4 linked regions of the Homo sapiens genome follow. The protein of the gene in region 1 interacts with the protein of each later gene in a pairwise test. Each region holds a gene or a part of one and is shown in the gene's direction. Other genes may lie near its edges.

Region 1 (7,025 bases):
TCTGAGTAATCATCGAATTAAAAATGGATATCATACTATAAAGTTATGCATTATAAGTAATTGACATTAAGATAATTGGTTTTTAGAATATTGTGGCTGTCTCGGAGAGTATAGTTGTGGGAGTGAGTGCAGCAAATGCAACAGGATTATCATAAGAACGTAAGCGTTTGTTTCTATTTTGAGTTAGTCTCCTGGCCTCTTCAGCCTAGTGTTGTTTACCTCACAGAGGCATCAGAGATTTTCATCAGAGAACATGGCTTCCTATTTTTATTCAACTTTGAAAGGTTAGGGGTAGTCTCAGGCATCCTAGCTCAAACTACCCTTGACCCCACTTATAGTGTTTTCTTACTCTTTTTCTTAAAGTTCATCTTTTTTTTTTTTTTTTTGGCCTAACCCACTGGTTCTGAACAGGATAGGGAAGAGGAAACATCTGTGTTTTGAAAAGCATCCCCAGGTGATGCCGACAGGCCGTGGTTTCTGAGAAACACCACCCCATTGTAGACCAGTTAACTTTTAACCGTTCACTAGCAAAAAATTGTACAAGTTCTGCCTCAAACTGAAACCATCACCATTTGTTTTATTCTTCTAAAATTTTTATTTCAGTAGCTTTTGGACTGCAAGTGGTTTTTCATTACATGGACGAATTATATAGTGGTGAATTCTGAGATTTTAGTGCACCATCACCCGAATCGTATACATTGTACCTAATGTGTACTTTTTTTATGCCAGCCTCCTTCCCATCCGCCCCCATCACCATTTATGATGAGACTTTTAGACCTGAGTTTAAGGAAAACTAAATGAAGAAATAAAGGCACTATGCATTACAAAAAAATCAGAATTTTAAGTTTATAAAGTTCCTTATTTATGGGTCACTTAGATATAGGCTTGAAACGAATAAAGGGAATATTTTTTAAAATTATGTACAAAGCCAGAATGTCAATGTATTAAATTACAGTGAAATTTAGAACTTACACAGACTAGAATAGTTACATTGGCATTACCAGTGAACCATTCCTCCCTCTAGGCTATTGATTTGTTCTTTAAAAATGTATTAATTATTGAACACCCGTATAACCATAACCTAGATTTAGCAAATGCTGCCGTAAGTGCATTGTTTATATTTTCTGCTGTATGGTTTCAAAGCAAGTGATAGATGTCATGACACTATCCTAAATACTTCAGCATTTGTTTCTTAAGAATTCCATTTTCACACCTAAGAAAATTAACAGGCGGGTGCCGTGGCTCACGCCCGTAATCCCAACACTTCAGGAGGCCAAGGCAGGTGGATCATTTGAGGTCAGGAGATCGAGACCAGCCTGGCCAACATGGTAAAACCCCATCTCTACTAAAAATACAAAAATTAGCCAGGCGGTAGTGGTGCACACCTGTAATCCCGGCTACTTGGGAGGCTGAAGCAGGAGAATCACTTGAACCTGGGAGGCGGAGGTTGCAGTGAGCCGAGATTGCCCCACTGCACTCCAGTCTGGGTGACAGAGTGAGAACCTGTCTCAAAAAAAAAAGAAAAAAGAAAATTAACAATACGTCTCTAATAGTATCTAATACCTAGTCCCTATTCAGATTTTCCCCTCATTCCCAACATTTCTTTTCAGCAAAATTATGTCTCCTTGATTTTTTTTTTCACTCAAGAATAGCTTCCCTCTTCCCTTTTCATTCCCAATGGCATTGGCTTTTTTAGACACTAACCAGGTGTCTTGTTCCATCTGGATTTGTCAGATTGTTTCCTTGTGGCATCTTCTATTGTTTCTCTGAGTCTGGCCCTTGTATCCCCTGGAAACTGGAAGCTAGACCCTGCATCAGGTTCAGGTCAAACCTTTTTGGCAAAGCTGCTTAATAGAAGGTGCCATGCACTTTGGGTAGCTTCCCATCCAGAGATGTGGCAAGGATGGCAGGTTGTTCCACTGTTGGAGATGCTGAGTCTGACGTTGGCTTAGGATGACAGACAGCTGTCTACCCTCAGCAGAGTGTGCTTTTCCCTCTCAGTCTGAAAGTAATCTGTTTGTGACCCTTTGGCATCAGCTCTCTTGCATCCTGCCTGAATCAGTAGTTTCGTTGGGGTTGGAAAAATGGTGATTTTCTTTTTTTTTTTTTGAAACAGGGTCTTGCTCTGTTGTCCAGACTGGAGTGCAGTGGTGTGATCAGAGCTCACTGCAGCCTCAACCTCCTGGGCTCAAGTGAACCTCCTTCCTCAGCCTCCCCAGTAGCTGGGAGTACAGTTGCGTGTCAACACACCTGGCTAATTTATTTTTTGTAGAGACTGGGTCTTGCTGTGTGTCCCGGGCTGGTCTCAAACTCCTGGCCTTAAGTGATCCTCTCGCCTTGGCCTCCCAAAGTGCTGGGATTACAGGTGTGAGACATCGTGCGTGGCATGATTTTCTAATTACTTTTACTTTTCTTTTGTGTTTATTAGCTGTCATTCTTCTCTACAGAAGAGCTTCTCCTCATCAACTGGGGATGATTACAGTTCTTCCTAAAAAAGGTAGGATAAATGCTCAGTTCTTTTTATTTAATTAGCAATTTTCAAAGTAAAAAATCAATATAATAGTCCCATGCAGTTGTGGCAAATTATCATTTTCATAGATTTTTGTATATTCAGTATATTGAAATGAATGACAGTGATTATGCCTTACTGTTTAAATTACACCAAAATTGACCAGTGGGAGTCTCTTCATGCTGCCAAACTGTAAATGACATGTAAACAAACAAAATCATAATACCATCATGGAAATCTGAAAGCTAAATATTTGATGAAATAAAGGAACGTTTTTTAATTGGGATAATATTGTGAATACTAAAAAGATTAAGGAGTACCTCTTAGAGATACATACTATTTCCTGAAAAAGTAGGATTTACTTTGAAAGCATTCCTGGATGGTTGGGGGGAGATAGTTGAGGGGTAAAGATGAAACCCAGCTGCTGTTTATTATCCAGTTCTTTCTGTACAAGGTTAAAAAGTTCCCTAATAAAAAGTTTTTAAATTATGAATTTATGTTGATAGCTGCAATTTAAATGTAATATTACAGGTTGTTTTAACTTTGTATTTATATTTTTATCTATAAGGGCCTGTTTTGAAGAAACGTATATTTTCAATTTTGCTGATTTAAAGCCAGTATTGAGTTAGTATTAAAGCTTAATTGCAATGAATTGCATTGTTTGCTGTATACATCAATAAAAATTGAAGTTTCTTAAAAATTTAAACTAGTGGCAAAGAACTTTAAAAGTTATATACTTCCAGTGTTTTTCTTTTTTTTTTCGTTTTTTTTGAGACAGAGTCTCGCTCTGTCGCCCAGGCTGGAGTGCAGTGGCGCAATCTCGCTCACTGCTAGCTCCGCCTCCCGGGTTCACGCCATTCTCCTGCCTCAGCCTCCCGAGTAGCCGGGACTACAGGCGCCCGCCACCACGCCCAGCTAATTTTTATTTTATTTTTTAGTAGAGACAGGGTTTCACTGTGTTAGCCAGGATGGTCTCGATCTCCTGACCTTGTGATCCGCCCACCTCAGCCTCCCAAAGTGCTGGGGTTACAGGCGTGAGCCACTGCACCCGGCCCTACTTCCAGTGTTTTTCTATTCTTTCCCTTTCCTTTGTTTCCTTCTTGGAAAGTGTTTTTAAAGCTTTTTTAAAAAACCTACGTCATTTTTCTGAAATAGTCTTTATTTTGTAAATAAAATTTATTTTCAAGTATAAAAATAACACTTATAAAAAAACTTGAGAAATACTGGCAATTAGGAAAAATAGGGGAATGAATTGCTTTTGTCTTCAACATTTTTATAAATTTTTTTCATCTTTTCCTATATCTAGTTATTTTGTTTGCTTGTTTGAAAAAAATCAAATTTTGAAATTTTTTATATTTTAATATGTTGATAATTTATTAAACAAGGCACTTTAGCTCTTATTCATAACTACTAAGGGAAAAAGATAGCCAGTACTGAGTTAGTATTAAAGCTTAATTGCAGTGAACTGTTTTGTCTACTGTATATATCAAGAATATTAGAATTTATATCTATCTATTTAGTAACATGATTTTACATGTGATAACTTCTACATCATTGTCGCTAATACAGACTTTGGAAAGAAACAACACTGATTTTAGACATAAAGTTTATAGAGCAGGCTTGTGAGCAGGAACTTAAGAGTCCCCTAGCAGAATACCTAGTGACATTTGGGACTGGATGCTGCTGCTAGTTTTCTGATAAGTGAAAAAAAAATCTTCTGTGATCTTTTCAGATTTTTCTTCTTTTTTGGTTTGGGGGCTTCCTCCATTCACAAAAGATCTGACTTTTTATTAAACAGTATGTCAGTGATTTAAAATCACTTTGCTCCCACCTTAGAGCCTTTACAGCATCTACAGCTGGAGCCACCAGCTGGGTAATAACCATAAATCAATGCATGTCATACACTGTGGATGGAGCATCTGGCCACAGATACTCACCATTACTGACGGGCATCTGAAATGCCAGCTAGAAATGTGAAGGGTGTAGTTTGTAGGCATTCGTGACACATCCGAAGGTGTAGAGGTTAAATGCCAGCAGCCCTGCCATAGCTCCTTGGCTGTTTCCTTCGGCCCGTGCATTCATTCGACATGTGCATGCTGAGCCAGGCTCTGAGCTGTAGTGCCGGGGAACACAGCAGTGAACAAAATGGACAAAGTCCATGTTCTCATGAAGCTTTCATTCCAGTGAGGAAAGATTATGAACATATATGCAAATAAATATAGAATGTGTCCAGCAGTGATGAATGCAGTAAAGTTTTTAAAAGGCAAGGTAATGGGTTTGAGAGTGTTGGGGTGTGCTCTTTTATGGAAGGGTCAGGGAAGGGCTCGCTGAGTAGGTAGCGTTTGAGCAGAGACGAGGTAAATGAACCATGAGGCTATCTGAGGGAAGAGTGTTGCAGGGAGAGAGAACTTCTGGGTGCCAGGACCCAGAGGAGGGGTGTGTTCACTGTTCACAAGGAACAGCAAGGAGGCTGGAACAGAGTGAGCCAGAAGAAGTACGGTCGGCACAGGCCAGTGGGCATGGTAGAGAGCTTAGCTTTTACTTGGAGTGAGATACTAGCCAGGGGAGGGTGTGGGCAGAGGAGGAACGTGATCTGACTTACGCATTTTTAAGGATTGCTCTGTGTGCCCTAGCAGTAATAAACTCCAGGCTGTGAGGGCAGAGGCAGGAAGAGCAGTCGGGAAGCTGTTACTGTGATGCGGTTTTACTGTGATGCAGTTGAGCGGCGCGGCGGTTTGGGAGTGGGATGATAGCAGTAGAGAAGGTGAGAAGTGGTTATACTGGTTGAACGGTAGGTTTTGCGGATGGGTTGCTGAGAGAAAATAAAGAGTCAAGGATAACGTTGGTATTTTTGGCCTGAGCAACCAGAAGAATGTGTTGCAATTACATGAGACAGGGAAGACTGAGGGAGGAGCAAGTTTTGCATGGAAGGCAAAGCATTGAACTTTGAACACGTTAATCCTCAATGACTATTACATATCTAAGTGGAGAGGTTGGGTAGGCGGTTAACCCTACAGGTGTGGAACTCAAGAGAAGAGACTGGCACCAGAGCTATAAATTAGAGTGTTGGGTGTTACCAAACTAGGTAAGGAGGGTGTTGAGAATATGCATGTCCATCACTTTCTGTTGAATTTACCATATTTTTTTGCATATCACTCTTGAACATGACAGGTGAGAGATAAGTGGGTTGTACAGCCCAGTGGGCTCAAAGCCAGGGACCAGAGGGAACTTCCAGTTTTAAACACCCCAGGAGATTCTGGGACCATTCTTTGAGAAGCACCCTGAAGACACCTTCTGTTTTCCTCTTTCATCTTTGACAAGTCACACCTCTCCAAGTTTGTGATTCTCTAATGATTCCTAGCATGCCCTAGATGAGATGAATGGGTCCTCTCAGCACTCTTTCAGCCTGTACTTCTAAGATTTACCAAATACATGAATGGAAGGACAGAAAAGCAATTAAAAAATCAATGTGCCATTTGTAAGTGCTTCAAATTCAGTCTCATAACCATGAAGTAAAACCACTGTCACCATACATGCCTCTGTTAACATTTGGTAGTAATTAACACCTGCCTTACCTTGAGAATGATCTTTATAGTTTATGAGGTTAGCACTTTGATTTATGTCACAGTGTTTTCTGACAGGCTCAGTTATTCTTGCAGTGGGCTGGCTTCCTTCCTGGAGAGGTCCCTTTCCCATAGTGTGTTCCTATCTGCTATATACCATCAGATGTATTGAAAAATTGTTAACAGTTAATTATATTAGAAGTTTATCAATTGGTGTTTATGAATCACCAAGCATTTTATGTACTGCATCCTCATAAATAAAGCCCTAAGATGACACTCGCTTTTGGAGTTGGCACTACAAGATGCATGAGAAATACAGTTGATCCTAGAACAACACAGGTTTGAACTGCATGGGGTCCACATATATGTGGATTTTCCTCCACCTTTGCCACCCCTGAGAGAAGACCAACCCCTCCTCTTGCTCCTCCTCCTCAGCCTACTTGATGTGAAGACAATGAGGATGAAGACCTTTATGGTGATCCACTTCCACTTAATAGTAAATATATTTTCTCTTCTTTATGATTTTCTTAATGACATTTCTTTTCTCTAGCTTGCTGTATTGTAAGAATACAGTATATAATACATATGGCATACAAAATATGTGTTAATCAACTGCTTATGTTATTCATAAGGCTTTCAGTCAACAGTAAGCTATTAGTAAGTTTTTGAGGAGTCAAAGTTATACACAGATTTTCAACTGCACAGGGGGTCTGTTTCCCTAACTCCCAAGTTGTTCAGGGGTCAACTAAGTAGTCAAATGAGATCATGTGTACAGAAAAAAAAAAAAAGTGAAACCAAAATGCTATGTAAATCTGGTTTATTCTAATAGCCACTTGTCTTGGGGACAGTATCACCATGAGTTAGTCTGGCCAGAGTCACCTGCTAGTCCGCTTTATCAGTGTAGACTTCCTGTGTGTGGATCTGAAAGTCTAGAGAACAGCATTTCCCTCACA
Region 2 (7,025 bases), on another chromosome or scaffold:
TGTTTTTCTGTTTTGCTCATCTGCACTAGTTAAGGCCCTCTGTCTTGTCACAGTTGTAAATTAATTTAGAAAGAGCTGTCTCCCTGAGGGCAGGGGCTGGGTTTTTCTTTACACACCTGGACCTAATTCTTCTCTTCTTCCATCCATTAGTAAGTGTTTTGCTGTGTGCCGTGCATGGGGATAATGAGAACAAGAAGTTATGTTCTTGTCTTTAAGGAGTTTGTCGTCAGCCAAGGAGACATTTACAAAAGTCCCCGTTGTGGTCAGCGCTGAGAGGGAGAAGGTTCTAGTGTTAAGAGAGCAAATCACTGGGGTGTCTAACCTCGCCTGAGGTGAAGGTGGGGGTTAGAGCAGTCTGAGAGAACATATTAGTAACACAAAGTACTCAAATCTGGAGCACATAAACCACTACAAATCAATAAAAAAAGGAAGGCAGAAAACTCCGTAGAAAAACTAGCCAGTGATTTGACAGACACTTGACAGAAGATACCAAGTGGCCAGTGAACATGTGAGACAGTCACAATTCCGTGTATTCATCAGTCATCAGGGAAGTCAGAGGACCTGGGTTAATATGAGACATTGGGCCACGCATTGAACTTCCCAGATCCCGTTTCTTATTTGTAAATGGGGCTTCTCCTGTCCCTTCCCTTCCTCCCAGTACTGCTCTGAAGCTTGCATGGGAAAGGCTCTTCAGACCTTGCAGGGCTATACAGATACTAAGTAGTGTTGTTACTCTAAGTGATTTACTTTCTCCTCCACCTCTTCTCATAGCAACTATTCTGAATTCCCCTATGAAAGAAAATACTTGAGTGGTAGGATGGTTCCTAGGATTCAGAATAGCCTGTCCCTTGATACTTTGGGTAAAGAGCTTGCTGCTGGCATGGCTCTGGTTCCCTCACCCAGGCTGGGAGCAGGGTGACTTCCTGTGGGTCTTTTGTCACCCAGGGCCTGGTGGCAGGGAAAGGACTGAGGTGCACCAGTCCTGGCTCGAGCGTTGTCTGGAGTAGGCTGTCTGGTTCGTTGTCCACACTGACTGTGATTGACCTCCTCACAGAGTGCTCTAGTGAAGTCCGGAAATAACACTCTGGACTTGGGACATGTTGACATTAACAGGTCTACAGGGGCAACAGCCTCACCACCTGGCTTCCCCTGAGAGAGCCTGGTCAGTGCCATTGGCTGCCCTAGCAGGCTCAGGGATAACCTCCTGTTAAAACCGGTCCCAGCCTCCCTTTTGCATTCTTTGGATACAAAGGAGCCATGTTCTCTCTCTTTTGGATCTGCCCTCTGCGGTTAAGCAGATGGTACGCGGTGCAGATGCACACCTCTCTTCCAGCAGAGTGTGGCTGGCCACCTTGGCACATGTCACAACAGTGTCAGGATTGCTGCTAGTCCTGTCAGTCCCATCACCTGACTGTGCCAGGTTCTTAGGCCCTGTTTGGAGTCTTTCCCCACAGATCTCTCATGACAGGCATAGACTTCTCAATGGTCTACTCGGCACTTTTGACCTTTTTCTCTTCTGTATTTCTGCCACTTAGGAGTCAGAGTCAGAAGCAAAGGTAGATGGAGAGACTGCATCGGACAGTGAGAGCCGGGCAGAATCCGCACCCCTGCCAGTCTCTGCAGATGATACCCCGGAGGTCCTCAATAGGGCCCTTTCCAACTTGTCTTCAAGGTAACCTGGCTTAATGATGCAGGTGCTTGTTGGGGGCTTTGCACCATGTCCAAGTGCCCTGGAAGAGCCTGCAGAGAGCCCGTGGTCTTGCAGAGCAGGCCCGCTGTCTTGCCTCAGCCTCCCATGCCACTGCTCCAGGCTCCATTGAGTGTAATCTAGTGCTTAGCAGTGGCAGTGAGCACAGTGACCAGGAGGGGAGGGCAACCAAGGCTGGAAGGATCTGGCCCCGGAAGGGTGCTTCAGACTGGACTAGGAAGTGCAGTTCAAAGAGGAAGAGGGGACAGGAGGGATGGAGGTGGGTGAGGTCAGCTGACACTGCACAGCACAGGAAACCAGCCTTGGGTTTGCGATTAATGGGCAGGCTGCTTTTCACTGAGGAGTCCACGTTTCCAGTTCAGAGTTTAGTTTCTCTCACATCCTTTGTGAACAGTTCCTTAAATTCTCCAGGAAGAACTGGGAAACATCTTAACCTAGGTGAATCTAGTGTTAAAACTTTTGGCCCTTGAGAACCTGGTTCTTTTAACACAGCTATGTGAGTAGATCAAAAACACATTATAAGACCCCAAAGCATTATCTCAGTGTTCCTATGTGTGCCTCCAACTGTCCCCTTGGGAGTCTGAATTGTGCAGTGGTTAAGGGCGTGGACTTTGCAGCCAGACCCTTGGATTCAGATCCCAGCTTTACTGTTTGCCAGCTGTTTGACCTGTGCCTCCATTTCCTCATCTGTAAAAGCGAAGTGTGTTGAGGATTGAAGGAGTTAATATATGTAAAGTCCTCATAAAATTACCTTACTCAGGCCGGGTATGGTGGCTCACGCCTGTAATTCCAGCACTTTGGGAGGCCGAGGCGGGTGGATCAGGAGGTCAGGAGATCGAGACCATGGTGAAACCCCGTCTCTACTAAAAATACAAAAAAATTAGCTGGGTGTGGTGGCAGGCGCCTGTAGTCCCAGCTACTCGGGAGGCTGAGGCAAGAGAATGGCATGAACCTGGGCGGAGCTTGCAGTGAGCTGAGATTGTGCCACTGCACTCCAACCTGGGCTACAGAGGAAACTCTGTCTCAAAAAAAAAAAAAAAATTATGCATATTTATGGTAGCTGTTATTATCATTGCATAATGTTACTATTATTCCCATAATTATTCAGGGCAGTGCAGTGTAGGATCCTGCTGCTGGAAAAAAATATTTTTTTCTTCAGATAGTCAGCTGTAGAAACCATCCAAGTGGATACAGAAGCAGAGGGCACTACATTTCCCTTGGTTTTTTTGTTTGTTTGTGTTTTGCCTGATACCTTCTTTAAGATATAAGCTAGGTTTATTTTTTGCCAAGTTTGGTTGTGACTTAGGCATTGGTACTAGTGGTCCTGCTCCTGCCAGCATGTGGCTGGTGCCTCCGTCACGGTGAATCTGGAAAGGACTGAGCTCAGGGCCCTCATCTCAGGAAGATCCATATCCCTTGAGTTTGTGCATTGGTTTTTTTCTGGGCTCCTAACTGGTGTTTTCTCCTTCCCCTGCTCTCTGACCTAGATGGAAGAACTGGTGGGTGAGAGGCATCCTGACTTTGGCCATGATTGCATTTTTCTTCATCATCATTTACCTGGGACCAATGGTTTTGATGATAATCGTAAGTGCCATTTCACACTATTTTAGTTTTCCCTTCAGTTTTTGCTGCAGGCCCGGTTGTCTTAAGTGCGAGGTGTTGGGTTGGTTGTGGGAATTGACGGGGGTCCAGGCTTCTCAGAAAACCTCTGCCATAGAACATCTGTGACTTCCCACTTCTCAGTAGCCACCTGGAGGGTCATTGGTGTAGGCTGGTTGTTTATGGTTGAAGATGTCTCAGTGTCTTTTCTTTTAAAAAACTGACTTTATTGCCTGTGATCCCAGCACTTTGTGAGGCTGAGGTGGGCGGATCACGAGGTCAGGAGTTTGAGACCAGCCTGACCAACATGGTGAAACCCTGTCTCTACTAAAAATACAAAAATTAGCCACGCGTGGTGGCACGCGCCTGTAATCCCAGCTACTCAGGGGGCTGAGGCAGGAGAATCCCTTGAACCTGGGAGGCAGAGGTTGCAGTGAGCCGAGATCATGCCACTGCACTCCAGCCTGGGTGACAGAGTGAGACTCCATCTCAAAACAAACAAACAAACAAACAAAACTGACTTTATTATTCCAACTCTGTAAACTTTTACCCTGGGCATGTCTCTATATGACTCCTGGTTTCGTTTCCTGTTTTCCTGGGGCCTCCCTTCTGGGCTTAGAGCTTTTGTTAAGGAAATCCCAGTCCACAGAGCTGCTCTGTCTGTCTTCCCACTGTCCTGGACAGGGTCAGGTGACCATCAGCTGCATGTGAGCAAAGCATTTGACTTTGAATACTTGAGACTTTTCAAGTATTCAGAGTCAAAAGGAGAATGGATTGGTTGAATCCTGGGAGGTTCTAGAATAAAAAGTTAAAAAGGAGGTTTTAGAATAAAGTTAATTGAGGGTCAGGCATGGCGGCTCACGCCTATAATCCCAGCACTTTGAGAGGCCAAGGCGGGAGGATCACTTGAGCCCAGGAGTTCGAGACCAGCCTGGGAAAGAAGGTGAAACCTCGTCTCTACTTAAAAAAAAAATCCTTTTGGCTGGGTGCGGTGGCTCACGCCTGTAATCCTAGCACTTTTGGAGGCTGAGGCAGGTGGATTGCTTGAGCCCAGGAGTTCAAGACCAGCCTGGGCAACACGGTGAAACCCTGTCTTAAAAAAAAAAAAGTTAATTGAAACATCAGGGTGTGTATTTTATTGTGAGTGGAAAATTGGATCTACTCCCTGTGACATAGAGGGCTGCATTGCTCTGTGGGATGGTATGAGAGAGGAAGAAGGAGGGAAGCAGAACCACTGGAGGCCCGATATTTTTCTTAAGTATAATGGGTTTTCTGGAAGGCTCATGACCTGTTGGTTTCCATTTCCAAAAATCATAAGAATTGGGGTGTCAGTGAATGTTTTGTGTCCCGCAGGTGATGTGCGTTCAGATTAAGTGTTTCCATGAGATAATCACTATTGGCTACAACGTCTACCACTCATATGATCTGCCCTGGTTCAGGACGCTCAGCTGGTAAGCTCTCCGGCCCCACAGAGGCTTTTAGAATTTGGATGATGTGCTTTGTGGCAGGTACTTACAGTGACGGTGGGTATTTCTATCACTTGCTATAGAGATAAATGCTGGAGAGGCAGTTATCATGTTAGGTCATACAAAGTTTCATGAAGAAAATGGTATTTGAGCAATAAGTGAAGAAATGGGTAAGAGAATGTTAGGAGAATGTTAAGAGAAAGTTAAGAGAAAAAGGCAGGAGAAAAGAGGTGATTGCCACAGACTCGCACAGTGCCTTTGAGACCTGAGTATTTCATAGGCCAGACTGTGTGGTTGGCCTTGCAGGAGTCTTATAGTTACTTGAAGTCTGGAATCTTCCTGAGAAGAAACCAGATGGGCTGCATTCTGTGACTGTGTTTGCCTCGCTATTTGGATTCCTTAAACTCTGCATGATGATCCCGTTTTTCTAGATCAGTATATTTTTCATGCCGTCATATCTCAGCATCCCACTAGAGTTGTCTGGAAGTTGTTAGGTTCTGCTGCCGGCTTTGCTTGTTATCCTTGGAACTTGGTTTCCTTATCTCTAAGACAGATGGTTGAGACTTACTGGTTTCCAGACTGTGGTGTTTGAGCCCTACTTCATCAGAGGTGTTTTGAGTGCCAGAGTGGGCAGGAGTGAGGCTGAATGCATGGGATCTGGGCTCCGCTGGGAAAGTTGGCTTTCTCCGTTTCCTGGGAAAGGATTCAGCTTTCTTAAAGCAAAAAGAAAAACCTGTAACACATGTCTGAGACCCCTTTCTGATCTGAAACTCTGCTTTATTGGCCGTAGTATTCTCAGGTGGTGACTTTTGAGCAGAGCACTGCACCATGCTGAGAGGACCTGGGGCAAATGTGGACCTTCTCACCCCACTGTGCAGGGATACAGGGGTTGAAGCCATGACTTAGCCGGCTGGAGAGCAGTGGTTTTTGCCCCAGCAACCTGGTCACTGTCAAGGAAGCCGATGTGCTCAGATGTAGGCTGGGCACCCCCTTCCTGAGGTGTTTCCTGTCACCCAACAGACAGGCTGCCTCCCAGCCTCCAGATGGAATTGGGATTGCCACCTGGCTTAAGATGCAGGTCCCTTTTGTGGCTGTTCTTTAGCTGGAAAGCAGTGTTTTGCATTTTGTTAACATACTCAGGAGGCCTGACTCCTGGCTGTGGTCACTTTACAAAGAAAGTTTTTTCCATGTAACAGAAAAGAAACCCAATATGGGAGTTTTTGTACTTCATAATTTAAAAAAAAGAATGGGAAAGAAAAGCTCTCCACTTTCTTCTCTATCTCAGGATCCTTGCTGGGGGTTTGCAGTGATGGCTGCATGGTGCCATACTCAGCAGTACTGTGGAGGCTGCAAGGGATGGCTTCTCTTCTCATGAACGCCAGTTGAGGAGAGAGAATACACAAGTGAAGAGTTAACGCTAATGGAAGGTCTGTTTGTCAGAGCCAGGCTTCAGAGAGGCAGATGCATCATTAATTGCTTAGTCAGATAATCACATATTACTTGCTATAGAAATAAATGCAGGGGAGGCAGATGTCATGTTAGGTCATGCAAAGTTTTATGAATAAAATGGCATTTGAGCAAGGAGTGAAGAAATGGAGAAGCAAAGAGAATGTCAGGAGCAGGAAAAAGGCAGGAGAACAGCAGACAGGTGTGGCAAAGCCGGAAGAAACCATTTTGATAGGAGTGAAGGAGTTCCTGTTGGGAAGAGTGGAAACGAGACTGGGGAAGCAGGATGAGGCGTGTTTTTGAAGGTCATATGGTTCAAGGATCCCTCAGTTAGGTATGGGAATGCTACAAAAGGGGCAAAAACGGAGTCTCAAGTTTGGGAGAAATGGAGAGTGAATGAAAGCTGCTGTCTGTTTCTAGATAAATTTCTCACCTACGGTGTCACCAGAGAGCAGGAAACCATGGTCTGCCTGTTGCTCTGTGAGCTGTCCCGGGGGACTCAAGGGTGGGGGGTATTCTGCTGCCCTCTGTCCCTTCCTCTGGGATGTCTGACTGCCTTGCTGTGAAGGCAAGGGTGCTCCCCACGGCAATGACCTGTCTTCATTTACAGGTACTTTCTCCTGTGTGTAAACTATTTCTTCTATGGTGAGACAGTGACGGATTACTTCTTCACCCTGGTCCAGAGAGAAGAGCCTTTGCGGATTCTCAGTAAATACCACCGGTTCATTTCCTTTACTCTCTATCTAATAGGTATGCATTAAGCAGTTCACCATTTCTTGTGTCTGTATTGTTTTTGTATGTCTGTC
Region 3 (6,988 bases), on another chromosome or scaffold:
GCCTTGGCCAGCTCTCCTAGGTCCCTCCATAGCTTCACCCTCCGCAGCTGGGCCCTGAGCCTGAGAGGGAGGCTCAGAAGGTCCAGCCTCGGACAGCAGCACCAAGCACTGTCACCTCAGCAGATCCCTGCAGCAAGCTGTGTGGTGGCAGCATAAACTCCATTTTACAGGGACGAAAACTGAGACCAGGGCAGGGGCTACACTCAAGTCATAGAGCTGGTAGCAGGGGTCAGACTTCATCCCAGCTGCACTGGACTCCGAGTCCAGTGCTCTTTTCCCATCACCAAGTTCCTTCCCCCAATAGCAACAAATTCAAGGGCCTGTCCCCTTCACTCTGTTTCCCTCACATGGACTCTGTTCCCTGTTGTCCTTTCCGCTCCTGTCACCTTCAAGAGCTGGGCATGTGGGCGTTCAGAGGGGGGTAGCCAGAGAAGAGCAGGGATCTGAGCAGTTGGGGCCTCTGGGTTCTGGCCTGCACCCCCTCTCAGCCCGGTGTGCATCTTTGAGTCTATAAATTCCATTATTCATTAGTTGACTTCGGGAGTTTGCCCGGACAATGAATATTTTATTCACCTCCAGACACTGTCCCCAGTGCGTTCTTGGAACAATATTGTTCCTCAGCCTAGGAGCAGAGGCCATAGCCTCTGCCCTCCCTGGACATCCCCTCCCTACCACCACTACCTCCCCTCCTCCAGTACCTTCTCCCCCAGCAGGAGCCCTGGCTTGGGTAGGGCTGCAATTATTGGTCCCAGCATGATCTTGAACTTGAAGCTTACACCCTCTTCACTTTGATTTCCTCGTTTGGACAATGGGTTCATTGATAGCCTTGGCCGGCTCTTGTGGGTCCCTCCACAGCTTCACTCTACACAGCTGGGCCCTGAGCTCTGCTGGGAGCTCTCCCTGGTGCTGAATGTGGCAAGAGGATGCTGGCCTCGGACAAGAGGTCTCTGGCCAGGGAGGGCAGGGACTGTGCTGCTCTTGAAAGGAGTGGGCTCCAGTCTCAGGGAGGGAAGAGTCTGGCCTCTGAACATGGCAGTTCCCACCTCTCTCCCCTTGTCTCCTTCCCACTTGGGGAACCCCCCTGGAATCACAGGTTTCAGCGTGTCACCTCTCCCAGTGTCTCTAGCCTCCTGACCCAATGATTAGTTAGCAAGGCCTGTGGAGAACCCCTCTTGGGAGGACCTGAGGCTCAGGCATCTCCCGGTGGGCACCCCAGAGAGTGCAGTGTGATGGCAGCAGCACCTTCCCCAGATGGGGGAGCGACAGACATAATTCACACCCTGTGATCATGCCATCTGCTCCCCCGTGACGCACAGAGGAGAGGACGGGGCTGCAATGCCGAAGGGCGGGGGGCGGTGGTGAGCGGGCAGTCGTTCATTCACTAATTCTCTCGTTCATTCATTTGACAGATGTTCATCCAGCCCCAGCCACCTTAGCCCATTCCAGTCCTGTGCCAAGCGTAGGAGATCTGGAGAACCCAGACCCAGACCTGCCCTTCAGAGCTAAGAGAGGCCCTCTCACACTTCTGAGCTTTTGCCCACCCTCCTCTTGACCCCTGGAATTCCCTTGACTTGAAAAAAAAAAAGCCACCATGGGTTGGGAGTGGTGCCTCACGCCTGTAATCCCAGCACTTTAGTAGGCCAAGGCGGGTAGATCACTTGAGGTCAGGAGTTTGTGACCAGCCTGGCCAACATGTTCTCTACGAAAAATACAAAAATTAGCTGGGTGTGATGGCATGTGCCTGTAGTCCCAGCTATTCGGGAGGCTGAGGCATGAGAATAACTTGAACCTGGGAGGCGGAGGTTGCAGTGAGCCGAGATCATGCCACTGCAATCCAGCCTGGGCAACAGAGAAAGACTCCACCTAAAAAAATAAAAAAAAATACCCACCTGGACAGCAAGCCCAGGAGCTTCCCCTTCACAGGGCGAGTACCAACACGCTCTGCAGCGGCCTCCCAGGGAGTCACTGGGAGCTGGGTTTCCTGCCAGCCTCTCAGCAGGCTCTAGCCCACTCTCCCTTGGCCCAGGGGTTCTGATTTAGAACTGACAGGCCTGGGCTGGCACAGCCTGGACACTTAGTAAACGTGGAACGACTGAGCTGCTGCTGCGGCTCGCTCTCTCAATCAATACTCGAAGCTATAATTATTATTAATTCCTATTCCTTGGGGGGGATGTTCATGCTAATAGGAAACTCCCAAGAGTTTCAGGGAGGTGATGCCCGGCACCTTTCCTACATTATGTCACTTCATCCTCACCGCTGCCTGGGATGTGGCACTGCCACCTTAACAGGCAGGGAAACTGAGGCTATGGCCGGTTAAGGGACCTGACTGTAGTTCCATGGTGAGGAGATGGTGGATGCAGAAGCCCCAGTCTGCCTGGCTCTTGGTGCTGGGTTCTTACTTCCTCAAGTCTCTGCTCCATCAAAAACACTGGGGAAGCTCAAGGCATTCAGCTCTAGCGGTGGAAGGTCAGAAGATGGGACAGGTGGGCAAGGAGAGCTTTGGAGTGGGGTGGGAGCTTTTCTGGGGCCTCTCTCACCTCCAGGCCCAGGTCCCAGTGGGCAACCAGCTAGCCCGGAGAGGTCTGGGGAGACAGACAGACAGCTGGTGTCCTTCCTGGCTCCTCCGCAGGTTATAGATGTTTCTAGGAGCTCCCTCCAGAGCAGGGCCCAGGAAGTGCTGGGCCCAGGCTGACCCAACCCCGCTTGGCTGGGGCTAGCATCTCTCACTGAGCCCCTTCTCCCCAGACCCTGAGACAAGGCTGCGATTAATCAGTAACAAAAACAGAAACAAGCAGAAAAGTGTAATCAGCTTGGGAAGGGCAGGGCAGGACCGGGCAGGGCTGTGCAATCAGCGTTCCTGCTGGGACCTTTAGCTGATTGGGCCAAAGGGGGCAGGGAGGTGGTCCCAGTAGGGGGATTCAGGGAAGCACCCAGAGATGGGGCCACAGCCAGGCCAGAAGGTCACCCCCTCCCATGCACATCTGTGCACCATATGCCCACACCACTCCCAGCCCCAGGGCCTGCACACCTCCCCCGACCTGCCAGCGTACAACCTTGGCACACACAGGTGGCCACACACTCCCGACATTTGTCCATCTGCATATGGAGTCACAGACACCTGCGCACGTGCCCAGTGGCACATACACACCCTCATGGATAGCAGACATATGCACACGCAGGCTGCTCCCTCAAACACCTGCCCCCACCCCAGCTCTGGGGTGCCGACGTGCCCTGGGGCCTGGGGAAGCCCTGCACATACATTAGGTCTGAGCTGCAGCCATGTGAACTGGCAGGCCCTCACACCAGACCCCACAGGCACCGGGCCATGTCTCTGTCCCGAACTGCCCTGGGGGCCATGAGACACTTTGGCTCCTCTTCTGCAAGCTGAAAGGTAGGGGCTTGGGAAGGGTCCGGGACTGGGGCCCCATTGTGGGGAGCAAGGTCAGCGGCAGGGTGTCAGTCACAGGCAGGGCAGGAAGCCTACCCCAGACGTGTACCCAGCTCTTACCTGCTGCTCCTGCCCTGTGACCTTGGTCAACGTCCTTCTCTCTCAGCCTCAGTTTCCCCACCTTGGATCCTCCTGGCACGGAAACGGTGACTCTTCTTGAGGACCCAGGTGCTTGGGGCCAGTCTCACCTCTCTGGGTCTACAGTTCTTAGTTCCGGGCTCTCCGCTCCTGGTGCGTGGATGGGGGAAGGTGAGCCAAGGGGCAGGAAGGAGGACCCCCGCAACCCACCCCCTCCCTGGTCCTGGTGGCTGCAGACTTAGGGTGAGGAGAGCCAGTGAACAGAGGGGAGCCCTAGTGGGAAAGGGGAATCGGGGCCGAAGGGGAGAAGGAGCCCCGGGCAGGTTTGGGGCGGCCGCTCAGGGGCCGGCGGCGGGAAGGGGCGGGCTGGGGGTGGGGAGCGCGGAGGGGGCGGGCGGGCGGCTGGCGGGGGAGGCGGGGAGCGCAGCCAGCGCGGCACAGAACGAGCGAGCGAGCGAGCGGAGAGGCGGCTACAGCCTGAGCGCCGGGCCGGTAGCGGCCGCGCCGGCGAGCGGACTAGCGGGCGGCGAGCAGCGCGGAGCGCGCGGGGCACCGAGGAGCGGGCGCGGCGGGCACCGCGCGAGGCAGCCGGAGCTCTCGGAAAGGCCAGAGCGGCGCCGCCCCCGCTGCCCCTGCGGGGCCCCGGCTGGGAGCCCGACGAGGGAGCGGGCGGCATGGCCCGGCGGCCCGGGGCGCGGGGGCGCTAGGCCCCCGGAGGGGCGTCCCCAGCCTCGCCGCTGCCGCCGCCGCCCTCCGCAGCCGCGCGCCCCGCCCGCTCCAGCCGCCCCCGGGGCCGCCACCGGCCCATGAGCCCCGGCCTCAAAGTTTGCGGCGGGCGGGCGGGCGCGGAGCCTCCAAGATGCCGTTCCACCCGGTGACGGCGGCGTTGATGTACCGGGGCATCTACACCGTGCCCAACCTGCTGTCGGAGCAGCGCCCGGTGGACATCCCGGAGGACGAGCTGGAGGGTGAGTGTCCGCCGGGATCCCCGCCCCGGCGGCCCTCCTACCTGTGCGCCCAGGTGAAGCGCGGGCCAGGGGCGCGGGGGCGGGGGGCGGGGGGCGGTCCGCAGGTGCCGGTTGCCAGGTGGGCGCCCCAGCTAGCAGCTGTGCCCCGCGGCAAGACCTGTCCGCACCCCGGGGCGCCGCGGTGGGGGTCGCTCAGGCGGAGAGCGGCCCAGCCCCTGCCCGCGTGGTCCCCAGCGCTGCGGAAACTTGCCGGGCCCCGCAGCGGGGTCACGGGGCCGCGCAGTCGGCGGTGACGGTGCGGCAACGCGGCGGACTGGGGCGGGGGTCCGCGCTGAGCCCCCAGCGCCGGCCCGGCCGGAGCACCCGCATCCTGATCCCCTCCGCGGCGCCCGCCCGCGGCTCTCTGCTCGCATTGACATTCCGCTCGTGTCGCTTTAAAAATTCAATCTGCTCGGGCAGCAGCAGAAGGGGAGAGGGCGACTGCCCTGCTCTTGCCCGCTGCGGGGCCGCCCCCGTCCCCACCTGCGGCCGTAGCCCCTTCCCTGCAGCCCTGCGGGGACCCCCAGCCCGGCGCGCCGGGAAGGCGGCCCGGGAGGCGGTGGCGACAACAAGTGGCCGGACTGGGCGGCTAAGTCGCGATAGCCAAGCCTGGAAGGGAAAGGCAGAGAGGCCAGGACCCAAACCCGCCCCCACCCCGTTCCCCCTGCCTCTCAGACTCGCAGGGGGATGGCAGGCCGCTGGCTGGGCGAGGTCAGAGCAGAGGGCAGGGGCAGGGGTCCGGGACAGTGTGTCCTGAGGAGCAGTGAGACCCCTGGGGCCCGCCCAGCTCCTTCCCTGCTGGGCTGGGGGAGGTGCTGAGGTTTCCCCTCCCCCCAGACCTCCTGGAGCCCCCATATGGAGTGGAGTGGGGGATCTGGGCTGATGGGGGTCACGGCCTCCTGGGATCTGCATGTCTGCTGTTGCAAGGGGCTGAGCTCACCCAGAGGATGGGCCTCTCGGGGTACCTTGGATCCAGGGGTCTCTGAGATCTGGAGGCTCATTAGGGCCTGGGAGGGTGCAGCCAAGACCAGCACAGTCAGGGAGGATGGTGGGAGCCCAGGGGAAGCCATGGAGGGAGGTCCTCCCTCAACCCAGGCCCAGGGTGAGGGCAGATCTTAGAGGAGTCAGAATGGGTCGGGGGAAGATCCAGAGAGAGAAGGCAGCCTCTGCCTCGCTCACTGCACCATAGGCATGAGCCACCAGGCTCCTCACCAACTGCCCCTGCAAACCCTCAGAAGCGGGGAGAGCTGTGGAGACAGGGTCTGGGGTCTGATGCGGACAGGACAGATGGATGATTGGGGCCCCCCGACATGACCTCACCATTCACCCCTAAAACCCAGGGCCAGAGCCTCCTCCAGAGCCCGGGGAAAGGAGGGGTACGATGGTGGGGGGCGAAAGGTCAGGAGATGGAGCATAGGCCTTCTCCTCCCCACCTTTGTCCCCTCCGGCCCTGGGCCACCTCAAACCTCCTGCAGATTTTTCCCTCCAGAGGCCCTCATCCATCCCCTCCTCCTGACCATCCAAGCAGGAGTCACCATGTCTCCCAGACCCCAGGCAGCTTCCGCTTCACTCCCTCCCCTTGCTCCCAGCACCCCCACCAGGACCCCACCACCCCAACTCCAGCCCTTTCTGGGTCCCTCCTCTCCTGATCCCCAGTCCTGGAGTGCACTCCCTGAGGAAGGGGAGAGGCTGAGAGGCTGGCTGCAGGGGCGAGGGGCCGCAGGGTGGGCAGTGCAGGGGCAAGGCCGCAGGCTCCCCAACCAACGACATGGCGTGCTGGCAGGAGCCCAGCTGCGTTAGTCACCAGCCACAACAAGTGCCCTCCCCGCTTCTCTCCTGTCCCCTTCTCCTGGGCCCTGGGGAGCTGAGGGGCCCTGACTCAGGGGGCATCTGAAGGGCAGGGCCCTCCCTGGGATGGGCAGGTGGGGTCATGGAGTAGACAGATGCCTGGGTGGTCCCAGCTCATCTCTGGCCCAGTGGGCAGCTACAGATGAAGGCAAGAAGTTTTCCATGACCAGCCCCCTTCTTGGCTGCAGGTGCCCTAAAAGCCCTCTGGCGGCCCCAGGTCCCTTTCAGCAGTCCTTGAATGCCAGGGCTGGCCATTCCTGGCACGGATCCCCCTCTGCCCTCTCCGCCTCTGCAGGGCCTCATGAGTGCTCCTGCCCCAGGGCGGTCTGGGCGAGACCCAGGCCCTCTGCCGGGAGGACGCCATTCGCGGAGGAGCCACATGTGCCAGGAAGAGGGAGCTGGGCAGCCCGGGATGGAATGCTGCAGACAGTACGTGCCTGCCGCAGAAATCCAGGGGGCGGTCAGTCTGAGCGGAAAGGAGGACCAGGCAGGGAGGTGGGAAGCACAGAGTTAAGATGAGGGCTTCCCAGCCAGGCGGCGCTGGGTTTGAGTCTCTGCACCTTCAGCTCATGGAGTGACCTTGGGCAATCGCTCACCTCTCTGAGCC
Region 4 (7,025 bases), on another chromosome or scaffold:
GAAAAGAAAGGCCATATTAGGACTTATCATCTGAGTATAAATTATTAATACTGTCACACCAAGTGGAAGCATGTGGGAATGCTCATTGCCCTTTAGTTAATTTGTAGGATTGCTTCATTATACTTTTACGTATAGTCTGTTCAGAGAAAAATATTAAATTTGTCCTTCCCCAACAAACTTGATATTGTAGCTGCTTAAATAATGGCTATTGTATTCCAAGCATCAGCTGAGAACATAATACTCAGACTGTGTATCAAAGTTTTGAACTTTGATATTTGTCTGTGAAGAGCCTTCTGTGGGAATGGTGGTTGCTGAGGATGGTGTATGATCATAAATGTTAACCTAAATCATGCAGTAACTTGACCATGGAATGTTGTCTGTGATTTCTCTCCTTTGCCTCATCTTGATTACAGAGAGGTACAGAAAGCAGTCAACACTGCCCAGGGATTGTTTCAGAGATGGACAGAGCTCCTCCAGGACCCCTCCACAGCAACAAGGGAAGAAATCGACTGGACCACCAACGAGCTGAGAAATAACCTCCGGAGCATAGAGTGGGATCTAGAGGACCTTGATGAAACCATCAATATCCTTTTCTGTGGTGTCTGTGCCATTCGGGATAAATAGACAAATGGACAAGTTTTTCTCCAGTTGTTTCCAGTATGTAGATGAAACATTTTATAATCGATTAATGTTTGTTGCTCTTACTTGTACCATGACATGTTTAAAGTATTTGCCCAGTAACTTAAGGTACAGTAGCCAAATTCTTATACAGTGTGTGACAAATCCTGTACTATAAATGTATATATATATATAAAGGCAGCATAGTGTAATGATTATGACTGTGGACCCTGGAGTCAGATTTCTGGTGTTCAAGTCCTGCCTCCACCAATGTAAAGGGAAAAAAAAAAAACCCTTTTTTTCTTTTTTTTTTAAGTCTCTACCCTCACACTCAAGTCAGTATGATATTTCTGACACTGTCTACTTGGAGATAGCATCAGGTCCACAGGTTAAGAGCTCAGTCCCACAAGACTGCCCCCACTTCAGATGCCAGTTGCAAGCCCTAGGTTGTGACCAGCGCTTCCAACTGACCACGTATAAATTGGAGTTCCCACGACCCCCTCCATAGATCGAATTAATTTAATTTGCAAGAGCAGCTCACAGAACTCCGGGAAACAGTTTCCTTAGGTTTATCCATTTGTTGTAAAGGATATTACAAAGGATACAGATGAATGACCAGATGGAAGAGATGCATGCAAGGTATGGGAGAAAAGGTGCAGCACTTCCAGGCCCTCTTCAGGTGCCTCCAGGAACCTCCACATGTTCACCTATCTGGAAGCTTCCTGAACTCTGTCCTTTTGGTGTTTGTGGAGGATTCATTTCGCAGGCATGATTGATCACATCAGTTGGCCATTGGTGATCAGCTCAGCCTTCAGCCCCTTTCCCCTGGGGTGGGGTTAAGCAGGGGGCTGAAAGCTTCAACTGTCTAATCACATGGTTGGTTTCTCTGGGGACCAGCCCCTCGTCCTGAGGCTATCTAGAAACCCCCAGCCATCAATTATCCCATTAACATACAAAAGATACTCATCTGGAGATTCCAAGGGATCAAGGAGCTGTGTGCCAGAAATGAGGGGGCAGAGACCGAATTTGCATTTATTACAGTATCACAACCAGTTACCATGTGACTTGGGCTCATCACTTAACCTCCTGTGCTTCCGTTTCCTCTTTAGTGGAAAGTTAGGATAACAAGAGTACCTAGCTCATAGGATTATTGGGATTATACAGGTAAAGAGTTTAGAATGGCACCTGGCACACAGCTTATGTAATAGTGTTAGCAGTCATTATCATATAGAGGTCCATACAGGCCAGTGTTACACTTCGGTAATTAGAGATCAAAAAATCTTTTTGTAGACTGTCTTCATGTTTAAGAAGTGATGTTACAGTGCTACCGTCCATTGAAGAGATGTCTTGTTCCATGAAACTGCATTTAGTAAAAGCAGATCTGCTCTGCTAATTCATGGTATTGATGTGAAGTAAGTCCACTGATCTGACTCATGCACTGGAGAACTGTAAAAACTTCATTATATAGCCTTTTTTTCCAACTGGAAATCCCACTTAACCAAAACTTTAGATGGAAGATATGCCACTTGCATGTTCTGAGTTCTGTTTTGTTTTTTCCCTAAGTGAGATAAAACATAAGGAAACCAGCTTCTGTCAGGATCACCTTATAGTTAGCACAGGTTCGTATGCAGTTGATACATGGAGTAAATAATTTTTGTTATTCATGATGACCCTGGTACCTTTTACATTATTAAAAGGCAAGTATGTTCTCTAAAATTAGTGGCAAATATGTGAGGGGGCAGGATCAAAAGCACAGTTACAGGGAGATAATTCTTCCCTTGAGAAAGGAGGGAAGGAAAAAAAGTTAGGGGAGATAGAGAAAATGTGAGATTAAAAAAACAAAAGTTTTAATAGATACTCATCATTCAACCAGCAAGTGTTTATTGAGTATACTATGTGCCAGGCATTTTGTTGGTTACAGAGATTAGATTAATAAACACTATACCAGCCCTCACAGAACTTTGAGTGGATAGGGATGGGGGACAGATGGTAATCAAGTAATAACACAAATAGATACCTGCAGACTATGAACGAGAAGTATAGAGAGCTATGCAAGTGTCTGACATGGTGCGTCGGACCAGGCTAGAGGGTAAGGGAATGAGGGCAGCTTCTCTGAAGAAGGCCCGATCTCTCTAGATTAAGAAGTAGGGTTAGCATCTTGGCATAATGGGAAGTGGTTTGGAATGGCAGGAGAAAAAGGCTTGCAAAAGCTGTCTTAGTAAAGGTGATCAGGAGTCAAAAAAGGATAGACACAAGTGTTGGCAAACAGGAAGAGCCCAGCTCACCTGTGGTCAGATAGCCCTAAGTGTTTGCAGTGAAGCTCATCAGCAGGGGCTATGCTTCCTAACCAGACAGATCATCTCTGTCTTGGAGCAAAGGGATCCTCCCTCCTGTGGCTGTGGGCAGAGGAAGTCTGAGAATGATTGGTGTCCAGCTGACTGTGTTTTCAGAAAGTTTGAGCCAGATTTTATTTGTTTGCATGTGAGAGATTCAGTGAGTTAACAGGATGTTGTCAGGCTTTGATGATGAAATTGTTTTACCTTGACTTTTTGACCTACGCATAGTTGAAGCAAATCCTAGAAAATTTAACCTTGATGCAACTGAATTGAGTATAAGAAAAGCCTTCATTACAAGTACTCGGCAAGTTGTCAGGGTAAGGAATATGATCTTATTGTGTTATCTGTATAAGAAATAGCCAGACTTCTTAGAGCTCTTTCCCTTAATTGTAAACTAATAGGTCACCTCTGAAACCACTTTTTAAATATGAATTAAATGTGAGCTTCCCCATATATAATTTCTCTGATTGGCTGCGCATGGTGGCTCATGCCTGTAATCTCAGCACTTTGGGAGGTGGAGGTGGGTGGATCACTTGAGCCCAGGGGTTTGAAACCAGTCCGGGCAACATGATGAAACCCTGTCTCTACAAAAAAAAAATATAAAAATTAGCTGGGCATGGTGGTGCACACCTGTTGTCTCAACTACATGGAAGACCAAGATGGGAGGCTGAGGTGGGAGGATCAGGTTGAGGCTGAGAGCTATGATCACGTCACTGTACCTTAAAAAAAAAAAAAAATTTCCGTGATTGAAGAAAAAGAAATCTGTTTTTAATCTTTCTTTTTTTGACACAAGGTCTCACTGTGTTGACCAGGCTGAAATGTAGTGGCATGATCTTGGCTGACTACAACCTCTGCCTCCCAAATAGCTGGGACTACAGGCGTGCACCACCACACCAGGCTAATTTTTTGTAGAGACAGGGTTCACCATGTTGCTCAGGCTGGTCTTGAACTCCTGAACTCAAGTAGTTTGCCTGCCTCAGCCTCTCAAAGTACTGGGATTACTGGCGTGAGCCACCATGCCCAGCCTGTCAGGCTTATTTCCGAGAGCAAAAATGAGACAGTAATCTGCTGGCTTTGGGCAGGGTACATTCAAATGGTGTCATCCTGAATGATTAGACCCTTGTCCATACCTCTAGTTTCTTCAAGCTAGTTATCTTTCTCACTTTTTATTTCTTAGTGTACTCTATTTCTTGACGAACAAAACAATTGCTATTGTAGAAACCATTTGGTTTTTTGATTGATTGGTAATCACTTCGCATTGTTGAAGAGTGACTCTTAGTGGGTTTGGATAGCGGCCTCTTCCGCCATCTGAATTGCTTCTGGAACTCTTGCAACCCAAGATACTGACATTTCCATATGTAACTACTTGACAGCCGTTCCAGAGTTATCCAGAGCAAACAAGCATCTATCAGAGTGTAAAAAATTGATCCAAGTGAACAAATCTTTAGTTCTAAGTTATTTAGAATAATACCCATTATTAAAGAATCTGAGAAAAAATATTAAGTACAATCTTGTGTCATTAAAATGTTTCATATTTTGAAACTATATGGCTAAGCCATTTGATTAGCATAACTAGATGTAAGAGAACCAGCTGTCTTTAACATATGTACTAGAAAGCAGCTTCCTTGAATAAAAAGACTTGGGATCATACCAGTGCTAACATACGGCTTTTTAAGAGTCATCTTAGGCAGGAACCTTAGTTTGTGTTTGCCAAAGTCTTTATATCATGTGATTTCCTTTTGAAATTATTTCAAATGGTAGATTATCACTGAACTTTATATATTCTTGTTACTTGTTTTATTCATTAGTTGCCTTTCTATATACATATACGTAAATTGTTTATAGATAAACCCACATTTTAATGAGGGAGAAACCTTTCTGGACCTCAGATGCCCCATCCACAGTGAGTGTTTGGATTGGACATTCTTAATTTCTAGCCAGTTCAAAATACTGTTCTGATGAGGAAGCCTTGTTGTTAGGTGACATATTTTTTGTAAGATAAGTAAATCCCCAATTATTTTGTATAAGCTTTTTTTTTTTTTTTTTTGTAGTAGTAGGTTTTTTGAAGGATACTCCTATAGACGTTAATATTTAAGTGGGGCCTTGCAGTGAAGCATATGTCCTTAACCTTAATCATTATATTTATTTCTGCAAGGTAGACTTAGGAAGTTTGCAAATTGAAATTTAGAGGTTCGTATATTAAAAATTAAGTTCATTGGTATAATGGAAAGAAGAATCCAAAGTTCATTTTCTAATATCTGAAAAGCTTTTTAAAGTACATTCTTAGAAAGAGGTTGATATGATTTAGCTGTTTCCCCACCCAAAATCTCATCTTGAATTGTAATCCCCATAATCCCCATGTGTCAAAGGAGAGACCAGGTGGAGGTAATTGAATCATGGGGGCAGTTTCCCACATGCTGTTCTCATGATAGTGAGTGAGTCTCATGATAGCTGATGGTTTTATAAGGGGCTCTTCCCACTTTGCTCTGTCACTCTTCCCTGCTGCCTTGTGAAGAAGTTGCCTTGCTTCTCCTTCTGCCATGATTGTAAGTTTCCTGAGGCTTCCCCAGCCATGCTGAACTGTGAGTCAATTAAACCTCTTTCTCTTATAAATTACCCAGTCTCGGGCAGTTCTTTATAGCAATGTGAGAACAGAGTAATGAGAGGTATTCCAAATCAAGTCAGTACTTCAAAATCTTACTGTCCTTTTAGAGTTGAGATCTAAACCATACTCAACTATGTGATCCACCTGAATATTTTAGGGTTTTAAATCATTCTTGTTTAAATTTATGACCCCTTTGGGGGAAGCTGTTAGTATTTACCAGTGGTAGGCTAACAGTACCTAACTGAGCTTTTGCTGATCTGATTGTAATAAATTCTAGTTGAAAGTCCTATAGAAGAGGAGGAAATAGCAATGGTGCTAACTCGATTAAAAATAAAATATACCTTGTATAATTCCACATTACCACATTTAGCTAAACAGTGTTTGTATGTAGAGATTTCTGGGTTCTGGGTGGAAGAGCTCGATAGAGAGGGAGCAGAGGGTTAGCAGATTTGGAAAATGAGATGAAATGAAGTTCAAATTAGGAATTTGTACAAATTTATGTTAGTTCTTCTGTTACTATTACTAGTGGGCTTTCATTTAATATTGCTCCAAAATTTTGATTGACTTTATCTTTCAAACAGTGTATTCTACTTATGCTTTCTCTTTTGTAGGCAGGGGAGTCAGTGATACTCTATGCATTTTGTGGTTTTTTTTTTCTTTATTTGCTTCAACCTGAAGAAGTAAATCGCCTGTTTCTTCTTGATTAATGTCCATTGGTTATGCCTTTAGTAAGCTTTCCTTGTTTAGAGTTTTGTGTATGTTTTTCCAAGCATCTTTTAAGTCTGTACAAATCCAGTTTTGCTGGCAGTTTTTAGTGAAGAACCAAAATACTCACATTTTTGTGTAAATAGCTTTCATATTTTTGAGGTAATCATTTTTACTCTTGTGGAGTCACCTATACATCAAAGATTCCACATGTGAAATTTTTGTGTTTTAGAAATATATCCTAGAAGTGACTTTGGTTTTACTTTAGGATCAAGAGGTTTTGCAGTATATGGCAGAATAATGGTGAATATAAGGGGTAAGGGAACCTGAGTTCTAGGCTAAGCTGTGACCTTAATAAATCTTAACCATGGTAAGTCATTCAACCTCCCTGGATCTCAGTTTTATCTATGAAATAATCCTCACTAACATTCTCTGACTTTAAAAGTTAGAACTATTACCCTCTCCATGAAAAAACCGAACCTGCTCCAATGTAAGAATTGTTTACAGTCAATTGTAAGTCAAGATGGAAATGGCTTTGGTTAATCAAAAAGGGTGAAGTATCCAGTGTGAGCACAGATGACCTTGAAATGTAAGAATTATGAGTGGGAAGCACTGGGGTTTATGATGTCTCATTCATTCAGCTTGGAAGACAGTGTGAAATGGGAACAGAAGCATAAATAACCAGGACATTTGTTGTTCCTTTGGCAGATGAACCATATTTTATTGGGACTTGTTGCTTGACTGCTGGTTCTAAACGTCAT

Evidence for each region.
Region 2: the proteins of MTIF3 (region 1) and CDS2 interact in binary tests that used the Homo sapiens proteins (3 or more experiments, as listed by UniProt).
Region 3: the proteins of MTIF3 (region 1) and CABP7 interact in binary tests that used the Homo sapiens proteins (3 or more experiments, as listed by UniProt).
Region 4: the proteins of MTIF3 (region 1) and STX6 interact in binary tests that used the Homo sapiens proteins (3 or more experiments, as listed by UniProt).

The regions. Positions count from the first base shown.
Region 1 is NC_000013.11:27,440,560-27,447,584, reverse strand, and holds part of MTIF3 (translation initiation factor IF-3, mitochondrial), read left to right. Parts: intron 1-2,428; 5' UTR 2,429-2,497; intron 2,498-6,342; exon of another isoform or gene 6,343-6,568; intron 6,569-7,025. UniProt on the Homo sapiens protein: IF-3 binds to the 28S ribosomal subunit and shifts the equilibrium between 55S ribosomes and their 39S and 28S subunits in favor of the free subunits, thus enhancing the availability of 28S subunits on which protein synthesis initiation begins.
Region 2 is NC_000020.11:5,171,988-5,179,012, forward strand, and holds part of CDS2 (phosphatidate cytidylyltransferase 2), read left to right. Parts: intron 1-1,535; coding exon 1,536-1,672; intron 1,673-3,195; coding exon 3,196-3,292; intron 3,293-4,660; coding exon 4,661-4,758; intron 4,759-6,829; coding exon 6,830-6,969; intron 6,970-7,025. UniProt on the Homo sapiens protein: Catalyzes the conversion of phosphatidic acid (PA) to CDP-diacylglycerol (CDP-DAG), an essential intermediate in the synthesis of phosphatidylglycerol, cardiolipin and phosphatidylinositol.
Region 3 is NC_000022.11:29,716,040-29,723,027, forward strand, and holds the start of CABP7 (calcium-binding protein 7), read left to right. Parts: upstream 1-3,963; 5' UTR 3,964-4,385; coding exon 4,386-4,494; intron 4,495-6,988. UniProt on the Homo sapiens protein: Negatively regulates Golgi-to-plasma membrane trafficking by interacting with PI4KB and inhibiting its activity.
Region 4 is NC_000001.11:180,998,852-181,005,876, reverse strand, and holds part of STX6 (syntaxin-6), read left to right. Parts: intron 1-413; coding exon 414-583; intron 584-3,176; coding exon 3,177-3,271; intron 3,272-7,025. UniProt on the Homo sapiens protein: SNARE promoting movement of transport vesicles to target membranes. Targets endosomes to the trans-Golgi network, and may therefore function in retrograde trafficking.